3 linked regions of the Homo sapiens genome follow. The protein of the gene in region 3 interacts with the protein of the main gene of each other region in a pairwise test. Each region holds a gene or a part of one and is shown on either strand. Other genes may lie near its edges.

Evidence for each region.
Region 1: the proteins of SLC10A1 (region 3) and UNC50 interact in binary tests that used the Homo sapiens proteins (3 or more experiments, as listed by UniProt).
Region 2: the proteins of SLC10A1 (region 3) and SLC66A2 interact in binary tests that used the Homo sapiens proteins (3 or more experiments, as listed by UniProt).

The regions. Positions count from the first base shown.
Region 1 is NC_000002.12:98,614,970-98,618,628, reverse strand, and holds the end of UNC50 (protein unc-50 homolog), read right to left. Parts: intron 2,423-3,659; coding exon 2,283-2,422; intron 2,198-2,282; coding exon 2,096-2,197; intron 484-2,095; coding exon of another isoform or gene 462-483; coding exon 325-461; 3' UTR 114-324; downstream 1-113. UniProt on the Homo sapiens protein: Involved in the cell surface expression of neuronal nicotinic receptors. Binds RNA.
Region 2 is NC_000018.10:79,931,077-79,934,735, forward strand, and holds part of SLC66A2 (solute carrier family 66 member 2), read right to left. Parts: intron 2,947-3,659; coding exon 2,893-2,946; intron 1-2,892.
Region 3 is NC_000014.9:69,774,873-69,777,694, reverse strand, and holds the end of SLC10A1 (hepatic sodium/bile acid cotransporter), read left to right. Parts: intron 1-1,306; coding exon 1,307-1,413; 3' UTR 1,414-2,279; downstream 2,280-2,822. UniProt on the Homo sapiens protein: As a major transporter of conjugated bile salts from plasma into the hepatocyte, it plays a key role in the enterohepatic circulation of bile salts necessary for the solubilization and absorption of dietary fat and fat-soluble vitamins.

The sequences.
Region 1 (3,659 bases), on a different chromosome or scaffold from region 3:
GATGATACTCTTTCAAAAATAATTCATATTGTTTTATGTTTATGTTTTCCCCATGCCATTAGCATTTTACATGTAGCTCTTACATTTGCAAATATTAGAGTGAACACACATGCTTTAGTTTAAAAAATATTTATTATAGAAATGTACATTTAATTAGTTTTAAGGAATGTACCTGACCACAGTGTTAATATATATTTCTTCAAATTTGCAAACTTTACACCTTTAAGATATCTACAAAGATGATAGTTTATTTACAAGTTTTACAAGAAATGATCACTTCACAATACTGTTGACACAGTTACGATTGAATCTTCTTCTCACTTTTTATTTCACTCTGTACTTATAGAAAGAACAGAGAGTATGGGTGAAGTTCCATCCCAGTGCCAGGGAAAGCCCGTAGAGCAGAATCAGAGGTGCAAATGGATACAGAAGAATTACTGTATTTTTCAAAAATGGCAATGCTGGAAAAGAAAGGAATCCAAACTGATTTAAAAAAAAAAAAAAATAAATGACTAATAAATGAACATTTTGAAAGACAGCTTACTTCAACATGTGGGGTGGAAGGGAATGCATATTTTGAATCAGTAAGATGATGCTATTTATGCCCAGAACTAGACTACTCTTCCCAACCCCTCTGTGCTGTTTCCTCCTTGTCTAGGGCTGGGAAGAAACCTAGGAGAGGAATTATTTCAGCACAGAGGCTGAGTGGGACATCATACACTGGACCAAGAGAGGTTAACAATGAGGGAGAAATGTCACAAATATTCATGAAAACAGTGGTGAATTTAAACTTGTGACTGCCTCAGAAACCTCTAGGAGTCCAACTTAAAGTACAGAGATGGATGGCGTTATAGGAAAACATCTTTTAGCTATTTGAGATTTTCCAGTGTAAAGCATTATACCCCCACTTTAAGAGGGTGTGAGCTCAACTAGTAGCCCAGGCTTCAGAAAAGAACTGAAACTCTTAAATATAAAAGTCTGGCTCCAAATATTGATGTTTCTTGCTCACTGCTTAGTTAGCGGGACCCTACCCCATGCATCCCGACCTAAGTATTTCTCATATAGGAAGTTCTTAAACAAACTGAGCTGTACTCCAACTATTCTAAGTGGTATAGGTCGTTACCAGGAGTGTTCAAATAACCACTTAGAGAAACCACAGTGCTGCAGTGTTCTCATCACAAAACACTTTCAAAATTCATTAGAAATGACACAAACATCTCCCCTGGACTAGAGAAAGCACTCCCCAAACAAGGCATTACAATGAAGGGGTTAAGTGTTCCCTGACAAACCAGCCAAGGGGGGAGAGAACCGGGGTGGGAATAACTCCGGAGCCAGGCATAGTCAGAGCCATCTGTATTTACAGTTAGGCCCTAATCATCTACAGTAACAGGAAAGGAAGGGGTAAGAAACGTACAGCGCAGTCTCTAGATTTTATTTGGCTTTATTTAATGGGATCATTTCTTAACATAAATGAAAAATAATATATGTTCCTCATTCATATTAAGAAAAATGAACTGACAACAGGATTTAACAGTAAATCTGCAAACATGTCCTGAGGACAATAAATGTTGGGCCCGATCTTCTGTGATTGTCTACAGAACCATACGGTAATCATGAAAACTAAGAATGGGGCAAAAAGTTATGATTCAAAAGGCTTTAGAGAACTTCAGTTCATAGACCTATGTAACAAGATGCTGGGCCCCACCTTTCTTCGCTCTACCCTCCTGCTGGTAACCCACAACCTGAAAGCATGGGAGAAGAGGAGTGAATGGTCTTGGATTCCTGCAAGTCATCTGGAGATAACCAGTATGGTTTAACATGTTTCCTTGAAAGTATAAAATCTGTTATATACCAGCTAGGCCATTTTCTAGCTGCATGACCATGGGTAAGTTGCTTAATCTCTCTGCCTCAGTTTCCTCATTTGAAAACAGAAACAAACCTGTGTAATTGTCATGAAGATTAAATGAGATAATGCACATAAAATACTTAGGATAGTGCCTGTAAGTGTTCCATAAAAGCAGCTGTTTGTACTACTGTTACAACTTTCCCCCTCTTGCTATGTTCTCAACCAAAAACATTTAAAAAAATTACTTACCACTGTATCCCAGGAAAGTTACATAGATATAATAGCCAACTGCAACCAACCATAAGGTATTTCCAACTAAATATCCAATAAATGTGTCTGTCAGGATAACATCTGCCAGAAGAGACGCAGACCATGAGTCCCTTTACCAATGCATGCAATGAAGACTTGGATAATACTCTAATTAACTGCTACTTACGGTTGATGAAAAAAAGCTGGATAAAATGCAAAATGACCAGGAGTGGATAAAAAGCATTGAGATGCACATCAAAAGCATAGCCCCATTCCACATCATAGTCTCTGCTCTGTCGTTTCACTAAATACTTGTTAGAGATGAACCTAAGAGCAAAATTAAAATTTCTTTCATAATAAAATGAATTCTGTAAATGTTTACTGACGACTTTCTATGCGGCAGACATTCTAAATTCTGGAGATATACCAGTAAACAAAACAGACAAAAATCCCTGCCTTCCATCTAGGAAGGAAGGCTGACAATGATACACCTATGTCAGATGGTATTATGGAAAGAGAGAAAGCAGCAGAGAAATGTGGAGAATACAAACTTGAGATGCAATTGTACATATGAGGGTCATAAAGTAACATTTGGGTAAAGACCCAAGGATAGTGATGGTGCCTGGCAGGCCTGAGGAATGGTGAAAAGACCAGTGTCTGAAAGAAAAGGAGCAAGAAATGAAGCCAGAAAAGAAACAGGGTTGGGCCCAACATCAAGTCACACAGGCTCCATGTCTTACGAAGCCTGTGGCCGTTTTACAATCTTTGGCTTTTATTCCTGGTGACGTGAGAAGCCACTGTGGAGTTCTGAGAAAAGTATTTGACTTAAATGCCTTGACAGAGCCTCCCTGGTGGCGGATCTGAGAACAGACTCCAGAGACAAGACTGGCAGCAGAGACCAGTTAGAAGGCTACTGCAAGGAAGAGATGAGCAGAGGGGCTGGTGGCAGTGGAGGTGCTAAGATGTGGCACACACGATACTCTGAAGGTAGAGCTCCTGACATTATTGGATTGGAGTATGAGAAAAAAATACTCAAGGATGACTGAGAGATTTCTGCCTTGAACAAATGGAAGATGGAGCTGCCTTTAATTGAGGTGGGGCTGGCTGTGGGAAGAGTGGTTTTGAGGTGGGAAGGAGTGTGCGGAAGTTTGAATTTGGACCTGTTATGTTGAAGATGCCAACTAGTATGGAGTAAGAAGTTGTATACAATGTCTAGAGTTTAGAAGACAAGTCCAAACTGGAAATATAAACTCATCAGTGTGTAGATGATATTAATATTTAAAGCCACGGGCCTGAATGATGTCACCAAAAAAATGAATGTGGATAATGAACAGGCCCAAGGCCCAAGACCTGGGTCAACCCCCTATTAAAAGGAGGATGAAATAGTAAGAAGCAGTTAGGAAGAGTGACGCATCCAGCCATAAGAACAATTATTCAAGTGTATGTCACTGTTCTACAACATGGCCTACTAGTTTTTCAGTTCAATGATGAATAAAAAGTAAAATATCCAAGTAACAGAAAAGTAAGATCTTCAAAGAACAAAACTTGTATTATAAACATATAT
Region 2 (3,659 bases), on a different chromosome or scaffold from region 3:
ACATTATTTAAAGAAATTAAAATGTTACATTAGAAAATATTTACTTAATACAAAAGAAAGCTGTAAAGGAGCAACAGCTAAGGGGAAAAGGCATAGGATATACAGAAACCAGAAAGTAAAGTAGCAGATGTAAATCTGAACATATTATAACATTAAGTGTGAATGAAATAAACAATCAAATCAAAGGGCAGAATTGCCAGAATGGATTTTTTTTAAAGATCCATCGTATGTATACAGAAGACTCATTTTAAATTCAAAGACATAAAAAAGTTAAAAGTAAAACAATGGAAAGAATATATCAAATGGCAACCACAGGAGACATGCATGTGATGACACTAACGTCAGAAGACACAGATGTCAAAAGAGAAAATATGCATATACGTCCCTAACAAACAACAGTGCCCCAAAATACATCAAACAAAAACTGACAGAAGTGAAAAGAGAAAAAGATAATTCAAAAATAGTTACAGACTTCCACACCCACATTTAGTAATGGACGTAACAACTACACAGAAGAACAATAAATCATAGACTTGACCTAACAGACAACCCTCCACCTTCACCCAACCACAGCAAAATGCACATTGAATATTCTCCAGGACAGATCATATGCTAGGCCATAAGATGTGCCTCTATTTAAAAGTACTGGAATCTGGCTGGGCGTGGTTGCTCATGCCTATAATCCTAGCTCTTTGGGAGGCTGTGGTGGGTGGGTGCCCTGAGCTCTGGAGTTTGAGACCAGCCTGGTAAACATGGTGAAAACCCTGTCTCTACAAAAAATACAAAAAAAATTGGCCAGGGACGGTGGCACACACCTATAGTCCCAGCTACTTGGGAGGCTGAGGCACAGGAATTGCTTGAACTCAGGAGGCAGAGGTTGCAGTGAGCCAAGATCACACCACAGCCAACAGAGCAAGATTCTGTCTCCAAATATTAAAAATAAATAAATAAAAGTACTGGAATAATACAGAGTATATTCTACAATTATAATGGAAATAAATTTGAAATCGATAACAGAAGACATTTTGGGATATTCACAAATATGTGGAAGTTAACACATTCCTAATAAGTGGGTCAAAGAAGAAATCTTGGAGTAAATTTTAAAATACTTTTAGGTGCATGAAAACAAAAACACAACACACCAAAGTATAGGATGCAGGTAAAGCACCTGCTTAGAGAGAAATTATGGCTGTCAATAACTACATTAAAAAGGAAGAAAGAAAAAAAATCAATGTTCTAACCTCCACCTTAAGAAAAAGAGTAAATTAAAACCAAAGCAAGCATAAGGAATGAAAGAATATTGGAGTGAAATAAAACACAGAATAGAAAAACAATAAAGAAAATGAACAAAACCAAAAATTGGTTCTCTGATAGGCAATGTGGATGTGTTGTGTTAAAAAAAGAAAGAAAGAAAGAAAGAAAAGAAAAAGAAACACCTTTTAAAAAGTTGGTTATTTGACCAGAACAAAAAATTGACAAATTTTTAGCTAGACTGACCAAAAAAAGAAAGGAAAGGAGGGGATCAAATTACTAAAGTCAGGAATAAAAGAGGAACCATTACTAATGACTTTCCAGAAATACAAAGGATTATAAGGGAATACTAAGAAAAATTATATGTCAACAAATTAGATAACTTGGGTGAAATGGAAAAATTCCAATACAAACTACCAAAACTGACTTACAAAGAAACAAAAAATCTGAATAGACTTATAACAAGAGATTGAATTCGTAATTTTAAAACTTCCCACAAAGAAAAGCCCAAGCCCAGATGGCTTCACTGGATAACTCTAAAAATATTTAAAGAGAAATTAGTGTCAACCCTTTGCAAACTCTAAAAAGATAGAAAAGGAGGGGAACATTTCCCAACTTATTCTATAAGGCCAGTATTATCCTAATACTAAATCTAGACAAAGTCATCACAAGAAAACTACAGACCATCATGTCTTACGAATACAGATACAAAAAATCCCCAATACAATACTAGCAAATAAAATCCAGCAACAGATAAAAAGTGTTAGACACCATGACCACATGGATTTATCCCAAGAATGCAAGGTTGGTTCAACACACAAAAATCAATCAATGTAGTACATCATCATAGTAGAATAAAAAATAAAACCCACATGATCATCTCAACAGACACGAAAAGCATTTGGCAAACTCTTTTATTATAAAAACACCCAACAAACTCGAATAAAAGGGAACTGCCTTAACCTAATGAAGGGCAACTATGGAAAATCCATTAACTAACATCTACTTAGTGATGAAAGATGGAATGCTTTCTCACTAAAATGAAGAATAAGATAGGTGCATCCACTCTCACCGCCTATAACCAGGATAAGCAATAAAAAGAAATAAAAGCAACTACATTGGTAAGGAAGAATTAAAACTATATTTGCAAATGACAGAATCATATATAGAGAATCTACTAAACAACTCTTAGAACAAACCAGTTCAGCAGAATTGCATGATACAAGATCAACATGCAATGATCAATTACATTTCTATAAAGTAGCAATGAAGCAGCAGAACTGAAATTAAGAAAACAATTCCATTTACAATAGCATCAAAAAGGATAAAATACTTTGGAATAAATTTAACAAAGTCCAAAATTTGTCATCTAAATTTTTCTCCTCCCTTCCTGTCTCCCTCCTGCTTCCCCTTCCCGCCCCCATCTCCCCACACACAGAAGAGCATGGACAGGCTTCTAGTAACTACTTCATGCTTGAAAACAGCAGAGCTAGGAGTTGATTAGTTTGCTGTAGACTCGGCCACGCTTGGTAAAGATGACGCACGCACATGCACAGATGGAAGCAACAACAGGAGGAAGTACAGCTGCAGGAATGAAGCAAAAGGAACGTGCTGCGGACAGTGCACGCGCAGGGTACATACCCAGGAAGGACCGCCTGGGGGCAACCTTGACTTCTTCATCCTTGCTATCTGCAGCTACACGTTAAAAAGGGAGACAGAAACAGAAAGGGGAAAAAGACAGAAACATACTGGTTTTAACATGGGTAAACAGCTGTGTTCCCAGAACTTTTTGCATTTCTTTAAAAAAAAAAAAACAAACCAGAATAGAAAGATCACAAGATTTTGGTTTTTGTGCATTAGAAAACCCACTTTCTGAACTATTTTTCTGCAAACCTAACCTCTTCCAATATCATAAAAAAGTGAATGGGGAGAATGGGAGAAAAATTGAGCCAAAAATTGAAAGTTACCACATTTCCATTTAATCTCTCGGGAGAAAGGCAGCATGGGAGCCCGTCACAAGCGTGCTGTGCTGATGGAAAGCAGCCAGGCAGATCCTGCTTCCCTTTTCCTAGAAACTCATCTGTATGCAAGCTGCGGCTGCAATATAGCTGCCCCAGGTCAAAACTCTTCAGAAGGCTGCCTGATAAAGCTGTTTTCAGAGTACACTCTGCTGTAAAAGGACAGCTGGTTCCGCACATGCACTTGACAAGCACCTCTGCACAGACACAGACACAGGGACAATGTGACAGGGACCCAGCACCCTCCAGGGCCCAGCACTGGCAATGACAGGTTATAAGTCAACCTTCCTATCTGCGCAGCCCCAGGACAAGACAGCAGCCAAGGTCCTGGAAAACAGTGTGGCCTCTAGGTGGCTCCTGGGAAGCCCCATGGGGTTTGGGATTGAAGAC
Region 3 (2,822 bases):
CAGAGTATTACCTTTCAAAATAAAATTGAACCTCAAGACAGACCAGAGAACAGAGTGCCTTCCTCAAAGTGCACTTTAACACCAATTTTAAAAAAAAAAAAAAAAAAAAAAAAAAACAGGACATTCAAACCCACTTTATAACACATTTCATTATAACTCTCAACATTAGTATATTCTTCCTAAGTACCTACCCAAATCCTTCAACTGTCCCTTCATGTCCATGAATTGAAGTCCCCTTCAAAACCTTTCTAGACCCTAGGGACTGTGATTTACACCCTAGGAGAAATACACAACTTTCCCTATTGGAATTTGTTACATTATACTAGCAAGCAAATGCCGATTCTCTCTCCCTTTGCAATTAGCTAAGATGTAATTAGGTTGCCAAGCAGCCAACACGAAACAAGTACAGGCTGACCATACACTAGAACCATTTTAGAAGCTTTGGTTCAAAGCTACAGTAGAGTTGTGAGAAAGAATCTACTCTGATGCTTATCTGAGAGGAACGCAAGAGATTTGCTGCCCTCTTACAAAAAGTGCACAGAAGTTTCTAGACCAACCAAATTCCCAGATTTGAGGTTTTAGTACCAGAAAGACCTGAAGTGACCTCAAAGGACAATACTCTATGGATCTTTAGCTCTCAAGACTTGAAAAGAACTTTCCTCACAGTGTATCTCAGAAGACCCCAGTGGAAACACTAAATCAAAGCAACGTATTTCTTTGGACCTAATGGCCCCAAGAAGCTATTCTCAGGGGGGAGGAATCTGTCAAGTTTTTATACTTTTCATTCCTGCACCTGATGGGAGAACAACTCTGTATAGAGAACTCTCCCATCTGTATAGAAAGGTGCAGGAATCAAAGCTATCTTCAAATTTGCATCACCGCCTACACCACGGACAAGAAGAGGTAGATCAATTGGGGGTTGGAGGGAAGAACTGGAAACTCTCTTGGTTAGACTTTCTCGAAGATCTTTCCTGCCTGCCTCCTCATTCCCTGAATGCAACACAGACCTTGCATACATAAACTCATCTCCTGTTGTTTTACTGTATAACGAAGTTAGAAGTGAAGTGATGATGAAGACACAATAGTCTAATTCATTAGGACTTTTACTACTAGTACTACCATTAGGGAGACTGAGGGGAAAGTGAGTTTAAAGAGTAAACCATGGGAGAGACGACAGAGATGGAAAATATATACTTAGCACACTCTAGGGCTGAGTTGGTATTTTTGTACTTTCCAGATTAAACAAGCTTCATTGTTCACTCCTCTTGTTCTCTCTCTACACCTGTAACCCTTTTTAACTTTACAGATAAAACAAAAATGATCTACACAGCTGCCACAACTGAAGAAACAATTCCAGGAGCTCTGGGAAATGGCACCTACAAAGGGGAGGACTGCTCCCCTTGCACAGCCTAGCCCTTCCCCTGGTGGCCTGGATTCTGGTCCCAAAGCAATTCTGAAAGCCAGTGTGGTAAACTAGAGAGAGCAGCAAAAACACCAGTCTTGCCTGAGTCTTTCTCCAGCATTTCCAGTACATCTATCAGAATCATCAAGTCTTGGCCGGGAACACAGACAGGGTGTCTACCCAAGAAGCCTCACCTATCCCCAACTTAGAATTTGCTACTTATTTTAAAGACTTGTTCAGTGACTGTAAACTCTATGAAACCAGAAACCGAATCTGCCTCTTGCTGGGATCTCTAAAAGTGTCTGATAAGCATCTTAAAGTCACTCAATTCCTGAACTAATCAATATATATGTTTAACCCATTACTCAAATACCCAAATCCCATTCCAAGTTTTGTGACCCAAAAGAGAAATAAATGCTCACAAGTGCTGTAGAATTAAACTTCAGAAGTTCTAACCTAAAAAGTTCAGATCCTATTCCTTCCCTTTTGACATTATTGGGATGATGCTCCCGAAAAGTCAAATTTGACATCAAGTATGCAAAAGTGAACACAGTAAGATGCAATCAGGCAAAACAAACTCAAAAAATAGCTAATGAAATGAAAAAACTGGGCGAATGCATCATGTTAGTAGAGGAGGAAAACTTTTGACAAGGAAAAACCAGGAAACAAACACATACATTAACACAATGTTACCTCACTAATAATCTCTTTTTTAAGTTCAGTAGGTATTTGGTTTTAACACAAGGCGCCCCCAAAACTGGGTACAGCAAACTACTGCCAAAATGAGTCGTTTCCCAATTCAAAGAAAAATGTTCAAATACCTAGAATTCACAAATTTCAAATTGTCTCTAATAAAATTTAAACATTTTGCATATCATATGTAAATAAGGATCAAGTAAATGATTAACAACTAATATTAACAATTACAAAAAGTCAATCATGCTTATTAGTTACTTGGGATTTTTATCATTTTGTATGGTCAGGTACAAATGAAACCAAGACAATATAGTTTTCGGGTATCAGTTTGGCAAATGTGCAGGACTAACAAGTACTCCCAACACCAAAACGAGAAACACAGATTTGGGTTACTAACATCCTCTTAAAAACGCAGATTTTTGACAAGGCTACCACCTATCATTTTTACTTATTATATCCATATATACCTACCTGTTCAAATTGTTTTCTCTATTATCTAACCAACATCATCTGCTAGGAGACTTGGTTACATACAAGTTATGTAAGAACACATTTGTTTAGCTTTTGAGGAAGACAGGGTTGGCCTCAAACCATTCTTAGAAAGGAATAAAGATGGCCGGATGCAGTAGTTCACACCTGTAATCCCAGCACTTTGGGAGGCCGAGTCGGGCAGATCATGAGGTCAAGTGATTGAGACCATCCTGGCCAAAATGGTGAAACCCCA